Homo sapiens: one gene and its partner. The protein of the gene in region 1 interacts with the protein of each later gene in a biochemical or structural test. Each region holds a gene or a part of one and is shown in the gene's direction. Other genes may lie near its edges.

Region 1 (7,034 bases):
TATATATATGTGTATGTAGTGTGTGTGTGTGTGTGTATGGAGGCAGATTATCTCAAAAATCTTGAGATGTTACATAATTTTTTTCTTCTGAGAAAAGTTTTTATTTCCCAAACATTATGTAATAACATTACATTCTGTTTTTGTGTATTGCTTTTTATCAGATAATCTGCTTTTTAAAAAATATGTAATGGCTTCCACTTTAGTGAATTAAGGTAACAAGGTGAGACTAAGTTGTTTAAAAATAGACCTTTGCCTCATTGTTTAAACATTAGGAATCTTTAAATGTAATAAAATTGCTTGTTGTTAAAACCACTAAAGCATTTCTCCATTTTCCTAACTTGTTTTTATTTCTATTATTCACTACCAAGCAATCTAGATTTTTCCTTTTTCAAAGACATTTGGGAAGGGTTGGGCTAGAATGTGTGTTCTATTCCCAGTTGTTTTCTCTTAGAGTATTTGGTTAAATCTGGCCAAGGTGGACATTCAGTAACCACTCTTTTTCAACCAAACACACAAAAAAATAAAATTCTTTAGGAGGGGAGCCCAGGAAATTAGGACTTGACTTTCAGATGTTATACTCCAGTAAGAACCAAAAATAATTTATTTTACTTCTTGTAAATTCTTTTAGTAACTTTTGTGGATCAACCCAGTATGAGTATGGCATCTCTGAAGAGCATATCATTCAAATGTTAAAAGTAAATGACCTCCTAAGTTACTCAACCTTTGCTTTGTAGCCACAGCATGTAAAATGAGCTCTTCTTTGTTTTGTTCCACACCTGTGGATGATGCCATGACTGCACAAAAGTAGTGTTTAAATTCAAATTTAGAAGAAATCTAGCTTTCCTTTTTTTTTTTTTTTAATGGCGCCTCCCTGTCTGCCCTAGGCTGTCCTCAAACTTCACCCCTGGGCTCAAGCAATCCTCCAACCTCAGCCTCCTGAGTAGCTGGGACTATAGACATGCCCTATGCCCAGCTAGTTCTCCTTTTTAAGACCATGTAAGCCCAGCTCATGAGGTTATGAAAAAAAAAGAGAAATCGGAAGGTAGAACTAAGCAACCATCAGAGAGTGTTTACAAAAAATTATTACTTCGTGCACTTGCAGAGTCAAATCACTTACATTTTAGAAAAATAAACACACCGCTAAGTGTCATCGACAATGAGTTTTTACTATACTCTAAACTGAAGCCAAAATCTTGATCTTAATCGTTCTTTTACTTAAAGATTTTTCATAATTTTAATCTAACTCAAATGGCCAATTGTTCATGTTATTCCTAGTCTGGGACCCCTCTGTGATTTAGTATCTGGCTGTTCATAGACATTTTTCGTTCCTGTTTGGGTGACGTTTTGAACTTGAAAACTGATGATGACCTATGTTTTAAAAAGTCCCATATTGCTAATGTCTGAATCAGCAGTAAATACATAATTCTAATTTAGTCCAGTTTTGTTTGTTCATTCTACAGGTTTTCAAATTTCCCAGTGATTTGGTAGACTTGTTAGAACCATTTTTAAATACCAGCTCAGCCCTATTGTGTTAAAGATGACATCTGAAACCACAAATCATTTCACAGTGGTAACCAGAAGGCTTGACTTTAACAGTTAACAACCTGATATAAGGACTTGCGTTGACAAGCAGTTTGCCAACACATTATGATGTGATGACACATCCCTATCACCATCTAAAAACACTTTTCCCTGAACAATATTCTATAAACGAGCAGTCTGATTATTTTCTTAATGAATTAATGTATTTTAATCTTTGGAGGAATTTTTATTTATTTCTACTTAAGAAAACTACAGAACATATAATAATATGTTCTCATTAACCTTTCTGTGTTTTTTCTTTTGCGCTGATTATGTTCTTAAATGGAATGAGAAACTAGTAAAATACTAAAGTTGTTTGATAATAAACTTTATTTTTAAAGTTGAAAAATAGTGGCATGTATTTATTTTCATTTGTTATTAAAAATGTTTTTTTTAATGGGGGAGGTAATATTGTAATGATCCTCAGAAAAAGGCCCTCATTTTAGCCTTCATTTCATTTCCATAGACACTAGCATGGTATCCTATATGGTTGATGCTCAATTAATATATTCATTAAATTGATAGATAAAAAAGCTTCTTTTCTTCTAGTTTGAAGTAGTAACATTTCTACAAATATGTGAAAATCTATAAGAACAGTTAGCCTATTTGATTCTTTTTCTCCACTTTCAAATGTTTAATAAAATGTTATTTGTTTTCCAGCTTCTTAAGCACTTCTTATCTAATGAGATTTTAATATATTATGAAAATTTATTTGTAAAAACAAATGCTTTCTAATAAACTAACTTTTATAAGCTTAGTCGATGAATCAAACTTTTTTGGATAATTTTTCACTTAATCTCAAAATTAAATATTATGATACATGGAAGCAACTTAAAATAAATTATTGCTTTGCATTCCTGATTGAGCACCAATCTAATCTTGAACTCACTGGAAACAATCTATTTGAAAGGGTATATTTGGCTGTATTTTGTTTGGATAAAGGCATATAGTAAATTTCCCTCAAATGATCACATACATGTTGTAGGCTTTTCTGATTTTTCTCTAAGGCACTGGCTACTCTAGATTATAGGATTTTACTCATATGTTAGGATACCCATTTCGTACTCACCCTAAAGCTGTATTCATGCTCCTTCTCTTTGTCTTACTATGTTCCTGACCTGAGCAGCATTTTCTTTCTGACTCTTAGTCACTCAAATTAACCTGCATTTCCAATCATTTATTTAAAGAAGTCCAATAAATCCAAAGATCATGGCCTATATTGCTCTACCCATTTACTTCTGCAGGGGACCAAAGATGGCACTTTGATTTCACGGTACTGAATGTGTGATGTTCTGAAAGGAATAATAGGGTAGAGGCCCCTAGGACTATTTTCCTGATGGTTGGACCAAGATTACTTCTATTATTCAAACTTAAAAATTGAGAAACTTGAAATTGGCCTACTGCAGCCCTAGTTTTCTTGGGCACTCCCTGAGGTGTAGGAACCAAACAGCTCAGCTTTTAAGAAAATATCTGAGAATGGAAAGGGTGGAGGTCATAATTAGACAGGGACGGTGGTCAAGAACATTGAGTTTTGAGTTATTGGCCTAGGTTCAAATCCTGGTATCATTTATAAACTATATGACCGTATACAAGTATTTAACTTCTCAGTGTATCAGATTATTCATATGTAAAATGGAAAACAAGCTTTCTGACAGCACCTATGTGGCTGTTGTAAGGATTAAATGAGATAATGCCTTTTAAACCTAGAATGCAGTAATCCCTGTTTGTGCTAGCCATTACAGTTGTTCCGTTCCAATGTAATTCTTCTACCTCTGTCTGAATCTGTAGGGAATTTATGCAGGACTCCATATTTGTCGAGAGGTCATGCCAGTGTGTTTAAATTCCAACCATGGGGCTCAATCCTGCGGTTGTGCCGTAGCACCTCCAAGTCATCAAGCTTGGTTTTGGTCCAATATCGTGAACTTCAGGTAGACACAAGACATCTCTCTGTAGTTATTCTAGAGAAAATGCAGTTTATAATTTACCAGGCAGTAGTAAACATTCTAGAATCAGTACTAAGTTTCTCTTTATGGAAGTAAACATGCCATCTTGATACACTTATTATTCGAAGAAGCAAAAGTAGATACGTTCTTACAGAAGGCAAAAAAAAAAAAATTTTGCTAAGTGAAGTAAAAAATGTACTACTCTCTGCTTCTTCCCACAGTATCCATAAATATGCTGAGGCCGTTTATTTTGCCAGATGGGTTTTGAGACCCTGCTGAAACAAGAGATGCTCTCATTTATATTTCCCTCAAATTCTACCACAAACCACACTCGGGAGGGAAAAGAAAAAGTCGCCACGTAAGCATGTTTACCTTCAAGTGACTGGGAAGTGGAAACCTATCCATAAGTGATGACTCACCATTGCAGGCCTATAAAAGTAAAGGTAATCTCTGCGGAAAGACAACAGTCCCCAGGCATCACCATTCAAGATGCATCCAGGGGTCCTGGCTGCCTTCCTCTTCTTGAGCTGGACTCATTGTCGGGCCCTGCCCCTTCCCAGTGGTGGTGATGAAGATGATTTGTCTGAGGAAGACCTCCAGTTTGCAGAGGTAGAGTATCTTGCCAATCCTGATGATGCGGTTGGTACATCTCAGAAATGTCCTTCTCTTTTAAACGCAGTTCATTTTGGTGTCTTTTCTAGCGCTACCTGAGATCATACTACCATCCTACAAATCTCGCGGGAATCCTGAAGGAGAATGCAGCAAGCTCCATGACTGAGAGGCTCCGAGAAATGCAGTCTTTCTTCGGCTTAGAGGTGACTGGCAAACTTGACGATAACACCTTAGATGTCATGAAAAAGCCAAGATGCGGGGTTCCTGATGTGGGTGAATACAATGTTTTCCCTCGAACTCTTAAATGGTCCAAAATGAATTTAACCTACAGGTAAATCATAGGCTATCTTTCTTTCATATTTGTTAGCCTTTTCTTGTAGTATTAAATGTCTAATATTAAGTAGGCCTTATTATTTAATTGGCAGTTAAATTCCAGAATAGCTTTAATATGGTTGCCGAGAATACCTCATAACATCTATTATTGTTACATTAACTCAGCATTATTTTTTAGTGGGCATCTCAAAGTATTTCTTTTAGAGATGAAATCAAAAGAGAAATAAAAGTAGGTTAAAGAAAATTTGCAAACATAGTACATTAGGTGTATTTATTACAACAGTGCTCAAGATGAAGAGTTCCACTCTTTCTAGAAACTTTACAGAGCTATTTCATTTATTTGAGCTTTATCAATGTAATCTAAACTTTTAGCATGCAAAATAAATTATATTAAACATTGGAATATTTTAAATTTAAGATGCCACATGGTCAGATATTTGGAGATACTCAAATGTGGCTGAATTTTTGACTTTTTATTCTTGTATGGCATCATAATTAATACATTATTTGAAACAATAAACCTCTAGTAGAACTTTCAAAGAAATTATTGCATTTTGAATTGAAAAGCAATATACCAAGAAAATGTATTCTAAAATAGCTGTCACTTTCCAAAAAGTTCATTGAAACTTTCTCTGTTAAATAGAATTGTGAATTACACCCCTGATATGACTCATTCTGAAGTCGAAAAGGCATTCAAAAAAGCCTTCAAAGTTTGGTCCGATGTAACTCCTCTGAATTTTACCAGACTTCACGATGGCATTGCTGACATCATGATCTCTTTTGGAATTAAGGGTAATGATGCACATTTATTTTACAAACATTTTTATATTCTAATTCTTGGTTCCATTTTAAAATTATTTATTTCAGTCATTCATTACTTTTTAAAGAATTCAACACTAATTTACCAAACACCTGTGCTAAGTACTCCTGGATGTGATAAGACTCCTAACCCTTGCTTTTGTGTGTAGAGCATGGCGACTTCTACCCATTTGATGGGCCCTCTGGCCTGCTGGCTCATGCTTTTCCTCCTGGGCCAAATTATGGAGGAGATGCCCATTTTGATGATGATGAAACCTGGACAAGTAGTTCCAAAGGTAATGTTTCTTATAAAGATATCATTTATGTGTTATTAGATTAGACAGTGAACACACTAGTATGAAGTTAAAACACATAAAAGTTAAATATATTTGGTATTTGACTATATTTTCTTAAATAAAGTTTATCTTAGATGTATTAGTGTCTCTACAAGTGACATTTCTACAAATTGATATCAACATTAAAAAATGAACAAAATCTACTTAATCTGTCACTGTGGCTTGAGGGATACTAATGAACTTTGAAGTAGGACCAAAATGTTTATGTCTGTCAGCCAACATGTTATTACTGCAAATTACCTTTTGGCATGTTGAGGAAGTACAGTTTATTAGAAATATCTAACTAAAAACTACCAGGGCTGGATCTATGGGTCATACATGAATTAGATGTGAATTGAAATAGTTTTTTGCTTGGTAGAAATATGTTCAATCAAATTTCTGTTTCCCATTATATGAGTTGCTTGATTCAGTCTTGTCTATATATTGTAAACACTATTCTTAAAAACCTAGACAGACTCTTACTCCAAACAGCATGAAACAGACAAGATGATGGTTGTATTTACAAGAGCAAAATGAAACTGAATGTTGAATGAGATCAGTTAGTAGTTAAATCTTCAAGTCTCAAAATAATTGGGAATGTTAACTTAGGAAGAAAAGCCATAGATTGTTCTAACTAGGACTTAGTTATGACAAGTAGATGTTGTCTTCATAGACAGCTGAGTTTTATTTTTCATTTAAATAAAAAAGATTATTTCTCCAAAGAATAAAACTGGGCCTTACATGATCAGTGTCTCAAATCTAATACCTCCAATCTGTCTATGGAGGGAAAAGTGAAAATTTACATATTTATGTTCTGGGTATTTCACAGGTAAGAATGGTTTCAGGAAGAAGAAATAATATCCAGCATTGTTAAGGTAGAATCACAGTAAGCCTCAAATTTAGGTTCCTTTATAAATTCTGGGTTTGAAATATTTAATTGAAGTGAATAAAAACATCCACAAACAAGTCTGGATTCATTTTTCAGTGGAAGGCCAAGAGGGGTATCCATTACTAGTCATTCAGTGAAGAATTAGTTAACACTCAGATTATGTGACCTCTAATTGCTCTCATGGTCTGCAAGGTTTGCTAGGATGGTTCATTTTCTTCATGCACAGGCTACAATAGCAGAGGGTATTTAAGGTCAAATGGAATCCACTGGCTCTAGTTTTCAGGTAATCTAAGCACAGGTAACAACAATCCTATTGCCTTGCACTTCTTATTTTTCTTTTAGTTTTTTATTTTCTTTTTTCCAGTTTGAAATACCTGCATTAGGAGGCTCAAAATTGGCAGACAGAATGCTTAGAGGGAACAATGTAAATACAGTGACATAGTAGTCTTCTAGAGTAGAGAAAAGATGGCTAATCATGTCTAGAGTTTCTGTTTCTCCAGAACCCAGAGTCTAGAGACATTCTGGAAAAAATCATTTGGTTGG
Region 2 (7,000 bases), on another chromosome or scaffold:
TCCTCAGGGCGGTCTCTTCCCTATTCCCCAGGGCTCACCCTCCTGAGCCCTACTTTTCTCCCCTTCCCTTTTTCCTTTCGGTCCTTGGACAGACGCTGTCCCTGGTGCTGAACCGTTTGTGCTTTGCCTAGAATTTGAAACACAATCCATGGTACCGCCCACGGGGTTCTCAGAAGAGGAAGGTAAGGCATTGGAGGAAGAAGAGAAATATGAAGATGAAGAAGAGAAAGAGGAGGAAGAAGAAGAGGAGGAGGTGGAGGATGAGGCTCTGTGGGCATGGCCCAGCGAGCTCAGCAGCCCGGGCCCTGAGGCCTCTCTCCCCACTGAGCCAGCAGCCCAGGAGGAGTCACTCTCCCAGGCGCCAGCAAGGGCAGTCCTGCAGCCTGGTGCATCACCACTTCCTGATGGAGAGTCAGAAGCTTCCAGGCCTCCAAGGGTCCATGGACCACCTACTGAGACTCTGCCCACTCCCAGGGAGAGGAACCTAGCATCCCCATCACCTTCCACTCTGGTTGAGGCAAGAGAGGTGGGGGAGGCAACTGGTGGTCCTGAGCTATCTGGGGTCCCTCGAGGAGAGAGCGAGGAGACAGGAAGCTCCGAGGGTGCCCCTTCCCTGCTTCCAGCCACACGGGCCCCTGAGGGTACCAGGGAGCTGGAGGCCCCCTCTGAAGATAATTCTGGAAGAACTGCCCCAGCAGGGACCTCAGTGCAGGCCCAGCCAGTGCTGCCCACTGACAGCGCCAGCCGAGGTGGAGTGGCCGTGGTCCCCGCATCAGGTAATTCTGCCCAAGGCTCAACTGCCCTCTCTATCCTACTCCTTTTCTTCCCCCTGCAGCTCTGGGTCACCTGACCTGTAGTCCTTTAACCCACCATCATCCCAAACTCTCCTGTCCTTTGCCTTCATTCTCTTACCCACCTCTACCTATGGGTCTCCAATCTCGGATATCCACCTTGTGGGTATCTCAGCTCTCCGCGTCTTTACCCTGTGATCCCAGCCCCGCCACTGACCATCTGTGACCCTTCCCTGCCATTGGGCCCTCCACCTGTGGCTCACATCTCGCCAGCCCCACAGAGCATCCTCAGGCCTCTCCAAGGGTCCTCATCACCTATTGCAGCCTTCAGGGCTCGGCCTATTTTCCACTACTCCCTTCATCCGCCTGTGTGCCGTCCCCTTTAGCTGCCTCCTATTGATCTCAGGGAAGCCTGGGAGTCCCTTCTCACCCCTCAACCTCCGGAGTCCAGGAGAACCCGTACCCCCACAGAGCCTTAAGCAACTACTTCTGTGAAGTATTTTTTGACTGTTTCATGGAAAACAAGCCTTGGAAATAAATCTCTATTAAACCGCTTTGTAACCAAGCTCTGGTACCCTCTGTCTCCATCTCCTGCTGTCCACCTCTCTCATTCCATGGGTCTGTGTCATGGGGAGCACTTGGATGCTTCTTCTCTGGCTCCATGTCTCTCCCTGTCTCTGTGTGTGTCTTGGCCTCTCTTCCTTTTTCATTTTCGGCTTCTCCCCTTGTCTGTCCTGGCAGTCTAACAGCCCCTCATTGTTCCCCCAGCCTCTCCTTCTCAGGCCTGTCTACACTTTCCTTCCTGGCTGCTAAGATCCCAAAATTTGACTGTACACATTACCCCTGGAGAAGTCATCATCCATAGTCTGAGGCAGTGCTGGGAGTTGTAGTCCCTCACTCCTGATGAGGAGAAACCCCTGCAGCCCGGAGTGCATGTGTTGTGCATTTATATTCACTTCCAATCCATCTTGGTGGTGCCAAGGGTCATAGTAACTGAGGGAACTGAGGGTCTCTCAGCATAGAGGCAGTTCCCTGGCATTCAGTTGCCCTCACCCCCATCCCCTAGCCCTGCATCTCAGCAGGGGGTGGTATCTAACTCTCATCCCACTACCTACAACTTCCGTCTTCTCCACTAACTCCTGCACTAATGATCATTCCCTACTCTCCAGAAGGAATGGCTTCACCCTCCCCAGACCCAAAGGGTCTCAAAGTACCTAATGCTGGAGAAGACACTGATCAAAAGCAAGTGATGGAGAGTGTGAAGGAAGGAATCAGGTTCTGGGGTCTGAGAGAAGCCCTCTCTACTCAGGAAGGCTAAGATTCCCAGTGGAGGTTCCTGGAGAAGGCTGGGATTCCCTTAGCCCTAGGACCCCCATGTTAGATGGATCACATCCTGAGTCCCACCCAGGCTTACCCATGTCAACTGTTAGGTCCCTGCACAACTGGCCTTGGAGTTCAGCCCTGTGGGGGATAGGGAGGGGGTTTGGTGGGAAGAGGAGCACAATTGGAGGTATCTACAGTGTCTTAGTTTCCCCACCGGGAGGGTAAGTGAGAGGTCTCCTTGGCTGCTGTTTCAATGGAAAGAAAGGGAAAACTTTCTGGTTGTGTAGAATAGTTGTCCCCAAAAAGGGAGAGGGAAAATGACAAGAAGAAGAGTTCTTCACCCGACTCTGCCTGCGCTGGGTTCAGGTTCTGTAGCCCACAGCCAGGGGGAGGGGCCTATGGCTTGGGTAGGGGACCAAAGACCAAGTTTGAGAGCCTCTGTCCCCCAGGGTTGGAGGGTTGAATGGGAAGGAGCAGAAAGGACAACAGGAGGGACAGGAAAGTGTGAGGAGTGGGAGGGGAGTTCAGAATTCTACCCTCTGTGGGGCCTGGTGCTTAATGGGTTAAATGAAATACCTCTTCCTCTGGGGTTGGGAGGTGGGCAGCACCACAAGCTGGGAAGAAACTATTGGCAGGAGGGAAGATGACAGAAGGAGTGCTGCTGGAAAAGCTGATTCATTTCACCCAAAACAGCTAGGTCATCCCAGCAAAATTCTTTGAATCCACTCCAGCTTCTCCTCTCTCCACCCCTACTGATTCCCACCAGGCAGTGGGACCTGTGGCCAGGCCAGCGGGAAGCACTGTGGACCTTGGCCATGGCTTCTAGAGGTGGATGGTAAAGTCTGAAGGGTTCTGCCCTGGAGTGGTTTTGCCTCTCATGGCTGAGGGCCTTGACCTTACCATGGCTGAGGGCCATGACCTACACAGTTGGTCTGTGGAGCCATCTTCCTTTGGGTCATCTGAACCAGAAAGGATTGGAAACTGACAGCTCCTGTAGCACCCAAGCACATCCTAAGGACAGCCACCTCCTACCCCAGGATACAGAGAGAAAAAGTCCAGTAAAGCAGATGGCCTAGCCAGATGGAGCTAGATCCAGGCAACAGATTGCAGACCTTCAGGGCAGTGTGTTAGTCTAAGAGGACTGCCTGGAGGAGAGGGAGCCAGAAGGAGGGATTGAGATGGATTCTAGGTTGGAGAACCTGCAGAAGGCCCAAAGTGGAGTTGGGAGAGGGAGCCTGGTAAGTGGAAGAGTCTGTGGATATAAGAAGGGGAAGTGAGAGGTTGGGTGATATTGAGAGAAAGCTGCATGTGTGAGGCCAGTCAGCACTGCAGGACAATGGGAGCTGCTGCGACTTAGTTCCTAAGCTGGGGGAGAAGGGGCAGGGCCTAGAGTGAGGAAAGTGGGCTGGATCTCCACTAACCACTTCTGGGACTGGCTGACTGCCCAGTGGACAGCAGGAGGAATGGTTAGTATTCACCTGGACCACACCAATATCAGGTCTCAGGAGCAGTCAAGGGATACCACCCTCCACTGTTGCTGCGGTAATCCTTCTGTCCCCTCCTTCACTTCCATTCATTCCACCTGGACTATACAGAACTGTGCTGGGACCTGGCACAAAGACAAGGGGGTGTGGCACTAAACTCCAAGCCTAGAGAAGGAAAATGACCTGCCCAATATCACACAGAAGCCAGATAAGAGTTTAGAGCTATAACTTTCTGTGCCCAGTATCTTTCTCCATTGTGGGGCTGGGTTCTCAGGGCTCTCCTAGCCTCTTCTCCCCAGCCCCTTTTGGGCTGGGCTCACACTGGTGGCCATAACAATGGAAGGCTGAGCCAATGCTGAAGTCGGGAGCGGGAAGAGGAAAGAAACCCAGAACTCAGGGCTGGGTTGTGACCAGAGACAGGCTCTAGGGAGAACTTTTAGGGTGCTGTTATAGCTTCCAGGACAGAGAGACCAGGGCTGGGGGACCCTCTGCACCCTCTCCTGGAGGGCTCAGGCTGCAGAGTGCGGCTGCCTCGCTCCCCCCGCCTCACTTCTTTCCCCCTCTCAGGTGACTGTGTCCCCAGCCCCTGCCACAATGGTGGGACATGCTTGGAGGAGGAGGAAGGGGTCCGCTGCCTATGTCTGCCTGGCTATGGGGGGGACCTGTGCGATGTTGGTGAGTGTTGAGGGACGGGGGGCAGGTTTGAAGCCTGGACCCTGCCACAACGTGCTACTTCTGGAGGGGGGAGGGAGAACATTGGTTTTGGCCTTGTCATTAATGAGTCCCTGTTTTAGGCAAGTTGCATAACTTCTTTGAGTCCTACCCTCAATTTTCTTATCTAAGTGAAACCACAATGCCTCTCATAGGGGGTCCATTTGAGACCAGTGCAAAGCATACTCCTGGCATTTAATCGGTGGTCAATACATGACAGGCTCCATTCTCCTGGAGAGGAGAGCCACTGCTCGTTAGGATGGAGACCCAGGCCGGAACTCCATCCCTCACCCTGGTTCCTGTCTCTTAGAAAAGGCACCAGCGCCCCTGCCCAAGAGCCCCTCCAGGCTCCTGCTACCCCCTCATTCTCTACTAGCTCTTTTGCACCGCCCTCCTGTCCCCCTTAGTCCCGCCCCTCTCGGCCTGCGGTAGTGGAAGGAGACCAGCCCCTTCCAGGGGACCTGGCCCTCTGGGTTTTGGGGCCCTAAGATGCCCGCCCTTATGTGCCGCAGGCCTCCGCTTCTGCAACCCCGGCTGGGACGCCTTCCAGGGCGCCTGCTACAAGCACTTTTCCACACGAAGGAGCTGGGAGGAGGCAGAGACCCAGTGCCGGATGTACGGCGCGCATCTGGCCAGCATCAGCACACCCGAGGAACAGGACTTCATCAACAGTGGGCTGGGAGACAGGGCGGGAGGGGCCCCTGCCATATGCTCTCACTCTCTCTCACTCGCCTAACCGCCTTCCTCATTAACCCATGCACTTATTCCTTGGTTTTCTCAAGCGTGCATTCCCTCACTCATTCGTTCACTCCCCTTCTCATTCTCTCTCCCTTCCCACCCTACGCTTAGGCAGTGGCCTTCGGGAACGGAGAGTGGAGGTTCGCGCAGTAGAGTGCGCCTGTGTGGGCCGGGCCGCCGTGCAGGGGGCCGCCTCCAATCCCTCCAACCTCCCTGCTCTCCGACCTCCGTCGGCCTCCTCCAACTCCAACTCCAATCTTGTTGAAAGTTTTGACTCTTTTTCCAAAACTCCCCTTTTCTAGCCTGGGTTGATATCTTCCTTATTCTCCCACCCCCATTCCCCTGCTTTCCATCTGGCCCTTGAGCAGAGGCTGGGGTAGAAGAACCCGACAAGGGCGGGTGCTGGATCGCGGGGAAGGGTTTCCAAGGCAGTCACCGCAGACCGCCCGGGAGCGGGGAACGGCCGCCATCTGCTGGCGGCTGCGCTCACTGCACGCCTTCGTCTCCCTAGACCGGTACCGGGAGTACCAGTGGATCGGACTCAACGACAGGACCATCGAAGGCGACTTCTTGTGGTCGGATGGCGTCCCCCTGGTGAGAGGCCCCAGTCGAACCCCGCCGTCTAGCTCACTTCCTCTAAGCACTTCTGTTCCCTACCACCCCCACCCCTCCCGACCCTGTCCCCTTCTTTTTCCGGCCTCCTTCCCTTTCTCGTGCCCTGTGCCTCTTCTCCCTGGGCTCTCCTCCCTTCGTTGTGTCCTCTTTCTTCCCTTCTGGCTCCCATTCTCCCTCCCCTAAAGTCCCTGCCCTCTCCTTTCCCCTTCCCCGGGAGATCCCCTACCCCCTAGCCCTAACCTTCCCTCTCCTGGGGCCCCGCTCACCAGCCCTCCTCCCCAGATCCTCTAGGCCCTCTCCCGGTGCTCCTGGTGTAGGAGCTCCTCACCACCTCCTCCGTTCCCCCAGCTCTATGAGAACTGGAACCCTGGGCAGCCTGACAGCTACTTCCTGTCTGGAGAGAACTGCGTGGTCATGGTGTGGCATGATCAGGGACAATGGAGTGACGTGCCCTGCAACTACCACCTGTCCTACACCTGCAAGATGGGGCTGGGTGAGGGCAGGCAAAGGAGGGTCCCAGCAAGGAAGTGGAGGGGTGGGCTAGGGGACCAGAGGGACTGATGTTTGTAGACAGAGAGTGCAAAGCAACATAGAGGAGTCAGAACGTGTTCCAGACCATGGGAGAGCTAACAAGTTACGTGGGTCCACTCGGAATCCCTGATCTTTTTTTGTCATGTTGTGGCCCATTTTTCTCTTCCCCATGGAGATTCTGGGAACTGTCACCCACAGAGCCAGGCTCAGTTCCTAACTGTCTTCCTTTGCAGTGTCCTGTGGGCCGCCACCGGAGCTGCCCCTGGCTCAAGTGTTCGGCCGCCCACGGCTGCGCTATGAGGTGGACACTGTGCTTCGCTACCGGTGCCGGGAAGGACTGGCCCAGCGCAATCTGCCGCTGATCCGATGCCAAGAGAACGGTCGTTGGGAGGCCCCCCAGATCTCCTGTGTGCCCAGAAGACCTGTGAGTGCCAGGAAGAGGCAGGTGGGAGTGGGAGACAGTAGCCAACAGTAGCCTTGGACTCCACTTAAAGTCCTGCCTGTCACTGGCCATGTGACCTTGGAGCCATCACTGCCCCTCTCTGAGGCAAAGGGGAAGAGGTGGGCTGGAGGCTCTGGGGTTCCTTCAGTGCTGATGTCTGATAACATGCAGCCCCATTCTGGGCTCTTACGGGCTGAGCAAGAACATCAGAGGGCAGGCTCTGAGGAGAGGAGAAGGAAGAGCCAGGGTGGAGGGTGAGTGTGTGTCTTCCCCAGGCCCGAGCTCTGCACCCAGAGGAGGACCCAGAAGGACGTCAGGGGAGGCTACTGGGACGCTGGAAGGCGCTGTTGATCCCCCCTTCCAGC

What was found. The genes of interacting proteins can lie anywhere in the genome.
Region 2: of the proteins of MMP13 (region 1) and BCAN, one has a biochemical effect on the other in vitro, tested with the Homo sapiens proteins (one study listed by BioGRID).

Annotation. Positions count from the first base shown.
Region 1 is NC_000011.10:102,952,685-102,959,718, reverse strand, and holds the start of MMP13 (collagenase 3 preproprotein), read left to right. Parts: upstream 1-3,986; 5' UTR 3,987-4,013; coding exon 4,014-4,133; intron 4,134-4,225; coding exon 4,226-4,467; intron 4,468-5,112; coding exon 5,113-5,261; intron 5,262-5,437; coding exon 5,438-5,563; intron 5,564-7,034. UniProt on the Homo sapiens protein: Plays a role in the degradation of extracellular matrix proteins including fibrillar collagen, fibronectin, TNC and ACAN.
Region 2 is NC_000001.11:156,652,117-156,659,116, forward strand, and holds part of BCAN (brevican core protein isoform 1 precursor), read left to right. Parts: intron 1-131; coding exon 132-776; coding exon of another isoform or gene 777-850; exon of another isoform or gene 851-1,356; intron 1,357-4,165; coding exon 4,166-4,273; intron 4,274-4,821; coding exon 4,822-4,980; intron 4,981-5,558; coding exon 5,559-5,641; intron 5,642-6,010; coding exon 6,011-6,155; intron 6,156-6,426; coding exon 6,427-6,617; intron 6,618-6,910; coding exon 6,911-7,000. UniProt on the Homo sapiens protein: May play a role in the terminally differentiating and the adult nervous system during postnatal development. Could stabilize interactions between hyaluronan (HA) and brain proteoglycans.